Linked DNA regions of Homo sapiens: region 1 is reported to be linked to region 2. Evidence: microRNA targets listed by miRTarBase, many of them from high-throughput screens and not tested one by one. Region 2 holds a microRNA gene; the other region holds the end of a gene's coding sequence.

The links. Region 2 holds the annotated microRNA hsa-miR-502-5p (AUCCUUGCUAUCUGGGUGCUA, at 1,292-1,312, shown strand). A microRNA usually pairs through its seed, bases 2 to 8, with sites in the 3' UTR of a target mRNA and lowers its output. Matches are read on the target gene's strand: a 7mer-m8 pairs with bases 2 to 8, a 7mer-A1 pairs with bases 2 to 7 and ends in A, and an 8mer does both.
Region 1: miRTarBase lists RGP1 as a target of hsa-miR-502-5p. Seed matches in the 3' UTR shown: 7mer-m8 at 1,967-1,973.

Annotation. Positions count from the first base shown.
Region 1 is chr9:35,752,518-35,755,517 of GRCh38, forward strand. RGP1 (RGP1 partner of RAB6A GEF complex) reads left to right here. Exons shown (of 9, transcript NM_001080496.3): 9 at 134-3,000. The coding sequence ends at 357. It overlaps MSMP (microseminoprotein, prostate associated), which reads right to left and starts at 1,759. Exons shown (of 3, transcript NM_001044264.3): 1 at 1,483-1,759; 2 at 1,143-1,251; 3 at 473-763. The coding sequence starts at 1,612. The coding sequence ends at 583. RefSeq lists an enhancer at 373-1,572.
Region 2 is chrX:50,013,322-50,016,846 of GRCh38, forward strand. MIR502 (microRNA 502) reads left to right here and starts at 1,277; the gene lies at 1,277-1,362. All of the region lies in intron 3 of CLCN5 (chloride voltage-gated channel 5), which reads left to right. It overlaps MIR660 (microRNA 660), which reads left to right; the gene lies at 1-16.

The DNA of each region.
Region 1 (3,000 bases), not on the chromosome of region 2:
CTCCCTGCCCTGTGACTTTTCCCTGTCTTCCTGAACACAGATTGTTTTCTTCTCATTCACTAACTATATCCTGTCATTGGCTTTTACTCCTGCTAGCTTCTGATGCTTCTACCTTAATCTTTTTCTTCCATAGTGTCCTTGAAGTGGAGATTGCATTTTGAATTTGTAACGTCCCGAGAACCAGGATTGGTACTCCTACCCCCTGTGGAACAGCCCGAACCTACCACCTGGACAGGACCTGAGCAAGTACCTGTAGACACCTTCAGCTGGGACCTGCCCATCAAGGTGCTGCCTACTAGCCCCACCCTGGCCTCATATGCTGCCCCAGGCCCCAGCACCAGCACCATAACCATCTGAAACTGGCCCACCCTGGTGCTAGTTCCTTCCGGATACTGAGAACTCAGCACCTGGACTCTAATGGGACCCACTTTTTCCACCTGGGGTCCAATGTCGTGGACAGTGAGAGTCGGGCTTTCAGCTATAGCATTAATTTATTTGTTCAGAATACATTGGCAGCTGCTAGTGGTTTCCCTGGAAGTGGCAGCAGCAGTGAGCAGTCAGCAGATGGATGATCAGTTGAGTTTAGCTGGAGTGGGGAGCAGGAGCCCCAGGAACAGGGGTGTTGGCTGAGCCCCATTCTGGGTCAGGCCCTCCCCCTTTGCAGGGCAGCCGAGGGTCAGATTTTTGCACCAAGGAGAACTGGCAGGTTCCTGCCTCCTGACGTACCTCACACCCAGCCGGGAAGTCGATGGGATGCTGGGACCTGGGGAACCAAGGATAGGGGAAGGAGTCAGCACAGTGAAAGGCTGCCTTTATCCCTGCCCACATGTTCCCTCTCTCACAGTTTTCCCCCCACAGAGCCCCTTTCAGTGGCCCCTTGGTCCTCCTAACTAAGCTGTCACCTACCATATGTGGGCCTTTTTGTTTTATAACAGGAGTATTTTCTCTCCAGGTCCACCCCAACCTCCCCTGATTTATAGCCTGAAGCCTTATCTTTCACACTAGTGTTGGTCCCTTCAGGTTTGGCCCATCTTGTATTGCTCTTCTGTTCATTCTTACATCACAGCAATCTAGTCACTCCCTGGTCATCCCTCAGTCACTCATATCAGAGTCATTCTCTCTGGCCATCTTTGGTCACTCACGTGTCACAGCAGCCCACGCCAACAGGATGCAGACAGGTGCAATGGAAACAGTCCTTGCGGAGCCAAGACTCACCCAGGGTAAAATATTTCCCCTCATAGTGACAGGGGGCTAGGGAAGAACGGGAAATGTTAGTAGGTGTAGGAGTGCTGATGAGAGGCAGAGGCTCTTCTGGTCTGGGGTGGAGACAGTAAGTACGCACTATCCCCGTATTTAGTTTGTCTTTCCTGTTTCACAGCTGGAGGAAGCCTGGGTATTTTGACACGGGATCATCTGTAAGGCCCCATCCTCCCTGTGCCCTCTCTGCTGCTCCTCCATTCCTAACGCTTCACCCCACTTTACCTTGAGCTTGGAAGTAGCACTTGCTGTAGACTCCTGGGTGCTGGAGGAGTAGAGACATCACCAAGCAGATGATCCCCCAGCCTCCTAGGATCCCCTTGGCCTGTCCAGCCCAGAGCATCCTTAGGGCCATTGCTGCTGCACAGCCCTCTCAGACCCTTCTTGGCCTCTGCTCAGCTACTCTGGTCTTGACTCCTTGACTTTGCTTTGCGTTGCTCCTTGAGTCTTAGTTTCTGTCTTTCTCCCCTGGGCTCCTGTCTCACACTATCTCCCTGCCCTCTGCTCTCACAGGCTGGGGATGTTTATAAAGTGAGGACCCTGGCCCCCTGCTGAGTAGAGCTGGAAAAGTTGTAACTCTGTTTCCTGAGGTGAGGGCATGAAAACAAGAGGTCTAGCTTTAACAAGCTGTGAGAGCTGATTCATGCCCCGGCACAGCTAGAGGGAGGGAGGTGGCCATGGAGGGGGCACTGGACTGGGCACTTCCCCAGCAAGGAGGCAGGAGGGGCGAGGGCCCCCAGGTGGTCCCCAGATCTCTTCCCTGACCTGGAGAGAAGGAAGCATTCCACCTTCCCCCTTTCTCCCCCACTGCCACCACCAGGGGTGTGTATGCTGGGATCCCTGCCTGGACCGGAGGGAGGCATTTCCTGGGGATGGTTAATCCTGTGCCCCAGCCAAACCCAGGAGCTGCAATAGGGTGCGACGGCCAGAAGCTCCAGGAGAGTGAGCAGGCACCTGGAGTGGAGACTGTGTTTCCCTCAGATCCTAGGGCAGGGTTTCCCTAATGTATCCAAGAAATAGGGCTGCCCCTCAGAGATGGTGGGGAGGGTCTCTTTTCCTCAGGCATTCCAGAGGTGAACTGTCCATTGCTTATCACCTTCAAACATACAGCAGATGTGGGATCACCCCACATCTGGGGATGGTTCTTTCCCCTTTCAAAGAGGAGCATCTCTAAGTGCCCTGATGGGATGAATCACTCCAGGTTCACAGAGGTGTCCTCTCTTTCCTCCCATATATAATGGAGTGAGGTTTTTAGGAATTTATCATTTGGCATCCTCTGAGTTTCCCACAGGTTCTGGAGGAGCCCAGGATGGATTATTGAGAGCATGGGCTGTAGAGACAGTCTTCTTGGATTCAGATCCTGACTCCACTTAGCTATGTAACCTGGTCAGATTACTTCACCTCTCTGAGCCTGTTTCCTCATCTATAAATTGGGGATAGTAATGCCAACTCATTGGGCTGTTATGAGGATTACTGAGATAATGCGTGCAGTGCTCTTATCACCATCTCTGGTGCGTAAGCGTCAGGAAATAGCAGTTGCTGTGATTGGGGCTAAAGCTCTGAGGCAAAATGGGCGACATTATTTTCTTTGAATGACATTAAGCAGTTTGTGCATAGCTGAGGGCTTCTATTGGGGATGGCTGTCTCCTGGCATAGACCTCTGCACCTTTCACACTCATACTCCTTGTCAGCAGTCCCCAACCTTTTTGGTACCAGGGACCGGTTTTGTGGAAAACAATTTTT
Region 2 (3,525 bases):
GAGCCTTGTCATCGTGAATCTTCTGCTGAACAATCCAAGTAGCCCGTGTTTATTGCGCACTTTTGATGTGCCATGAGCTGTGCTGGGAGTACCCTGCTAAATAATGGACAGTGTCTCTCTCCGGGACTTCCTATCTAGTGGAGGTATTAGGTGCCTAGACTTCCCCAGGCCTAGGCAACAGACACAGGTGTGTCAGGAATTGAGCCTTCTCATTCTCTTATGAATACACATGCTCACATTGTGCATGCATGTGCACACACACATGTGTAAGTGTAGAAACATTTCTGTACAAAGCTGAAAGGAAGGAGCCTTATTATCTAAACTTGCCTGCAAGTTTCCTTGCCACACACACTCAGATGCATGCCTGGTGTGCAGGTGCCTGGACTTTGATTTTTGCTTGCCCTCTCCTAGCCTTGCAGCCTAGGCACAAGTGCTGTCTTAGCAGTGCAATGGGCTTGTGCAAGGATACCAGCTTGTGAGCCTTGCCTATGTGTAGGACAGAGCCTGTCCATCCCTTCTCTTTCCTTTGTTCATTCTTTCAGTCAGTCATTTGTGTGTGCATGTTTTTGGTCCATTCATTTATTCATCCCTTTAACAAATTTACTGAATTCCTGCTGTTTGGGAATGCCACAGTAAACTAACCTGTCAGAGATGCCGACCTTACTGTCTAGCAGGCTCATGGAGAATAAGCATCCTCATGTCATCCAACTTCCTGTGAATACATGGGCTCAGGGTGCCAGAAATCAGGCTTTTCTTTATTCCCTCCCACAGACATGGGTACCTGTGCAAATATATGTGGTGTGCACATCCTGAGCCTGCTGCTCTGCTTCCCCTTGTATCCTTGCCACCTAAATGTGCATGCTGTCTCAGTGCAGCACCTATTCCAGGACTCTCAGAGGGGCCTTTTTCTGCCCATAGACAGACAAAGTGCCTGTGAGTCACACTTCCTCCTCCCTCTCCTTCCCCTCTACCTCCCTTTCACAAGTATTGAGCACTTAGTACATGCTAACGCTGTGCTGCCAGGGCAGTGGGCATATGGTATCACACAAGATGGACTTGGTTCTTGCCTCAAAGAATATGTGTAGGAGACTTGACTTTTTGTCACCTAATATTCCTGCACGTGCTGAGTTAGTGTGGGCCACAACATGGGACTTCTTATTGACACCCTCTCCCAACATATACACAATGCAAGACTCTCATTCCTGTTCTCACACAGAGCTGTGTAACAGAGAACCTTCTCTGCTTCGAGCACGGCAGGTGCCCAAGCCTTCTGCCCTGCTCCCCCTCTCTAATCCTTGCTATCTGGGTGCTAGTGCTGGCTCAATGCAATGCACCTGGGCAAGGATTCAGAGAGGGGGAGCTCAACTGTACCAAGAAGGACAGAGAGCCTAGACATCACCCCTCCCACCCTCCCCTGTCATAGTTTTTGAGTGATGGGTGTGTGTTGGGGAAGCACAGAACAGAATAGTTAGGGACTTCAGGTGCTCTGGTGGGCTTGTCTGTGTATTAGAATAAATGTCCTTATTAAATAATGTCCATGTATGCAGGTATCCAGAGTGAGACAGTGAGCTTTCTCTGTGTTCCCCACCTGCTGTCCACACACAGGGTGGTGGGCGGGAACCAGAGCCTTCTGATTTGCTCCCTCACTTCCTTCCAACCTAGATGTGAGTGCTGTCTCAAGTATTAAGCCAAGGATTCAATGAGATGGAGCCTTGCCTACCTATATGTATATATATGGACTGAGTGCATATATGTCTCTTTTCTTGCCTTCCTATATCTTGAGTTTCTAGAGTGTGACAGATACTCTTTTTAGTGTTAAGGATGCAGTGACAAACGAGAGTCAAAATCACTGGATGTGCTCTCTGATGGGCAGCTTTAGAAGAAAAATTCAGACGGGCACAAATGATGGGGGCCAAAGAGAGAGTCTTCCTATTCCCCCCACTCTGTCCCCTCTGAGGACAGGGAGATGCACACATTCATGAAGATTTACACTTACAGAATGTATAGGAGTTTGAGCTTATAAGCTGCCCTTTATCTTCCAGGACATCCTGAGTAGAACTGTGAGCTGCCTTTAGATGTCTATTACAGACTCTTCTTGAATTAGAGGGGGTGAAGAGCAAGGGACCCTTCTTATTGCTGATCTTGTATGCACCCCACACAATATGGAAATGAGAACAGCCTATATCTTTATATTACCTTACTTTAGTCAAATAGAGATGGACTATACATGTCTCTGTTTCAGTCTATCGCTCTCTCTGTCCGTCTCTCCATCTCTCTCTCTCTCTCACCTAGGGAGTACAGGTGCCCATGATCTGATTCACTCCCCTCCTCCCATCCTTAGCGCCTGAGCCTGAGTGCTTTCTACTGTGACCTCAGCAGTATTCTTCAGTTGTTACTCTCTTCTTAGCTAAGCTGATCTATTCATTCCTCCCCATCTTATCATTTTTGCTCATTGCCCATTGCAAATTTATAGTGTTCAGGTCAGCGTAGCAATACAGTATTATAAATAGTGGTGACAGAGACAGAAAGAGACACACACTCCATTTCAGTCCTCAAGTTCTTAAACATTTGGGACTTATAGATTCTGATCCTTGGTCCTTCTTCTCTCCCAGATTCTCCCAATCTAACCTGCAGTAAAGATTCAGGTTATTTAATATGTGCTCCTTATCTTTTGTATACTCTAAAATCTCATTTTGGTTACTGCTCAGCCTTAGTCTTATTTTATCAGACTTTATACCTCTCTTGATGCCCAAGACTAGCAGCATCAGCATCCTCCAGGAACTTGTTAGAAATAAACTCTCAGGCCTCACCTCAGACCTAGGTAATCAGAAAGTCAGGGGTGGGGCCCAGCAATCTGTGTTTTAACAGCCCTCCAGGTGATTCTGATGCACACTGAAGTTTGAGAACCATTGGTTTAAATGACTTAAAATTTCTATTCTGTCATTACTAGGGGGATTTCTGTGTTACACAGGATGATTTTTAGCATCAAAATTTCCTTATGTGTAAATGGCTCTTTTAGTTTCTTTTCATATTTTAAAAATTCATAGACTTTTTTGAGCAGTTTTAGGTTTACAAAAAGATTGAATGGAAAGTATAGAGTTGTTATATATTCTCGAGACACCCCAGTTTCCGCTATTAACATCTTGCATGAGTGTTGTACACTTGTTAAAATTGATGGGCTAATGTTGAGACATTATTATTAAATAATAGTATAATTATAATGTATTATAACTATTATTAAATAATAGTTTAAATATAATTATTAATGTAAACCATAGTTTACATTAGAGTTCCCTCTTTGTGTTATATACTCTATGGGTTTTGACAAGTGTATAATGACATGCATGACCATTATAGTATCATACAGAATAGTTTCACTGCCCTAAAATTCCTCTGAGTTCTGCCTATTTATCCCCCCTCCCCCACCCTAAACCCCTGGCAACCGCTGATCATTTTTCTGTCTCCATAGTTTAGCCTTTTCCAGAATGTCATATAGTTAGAATCATACATTATGCAGCCTTTTCA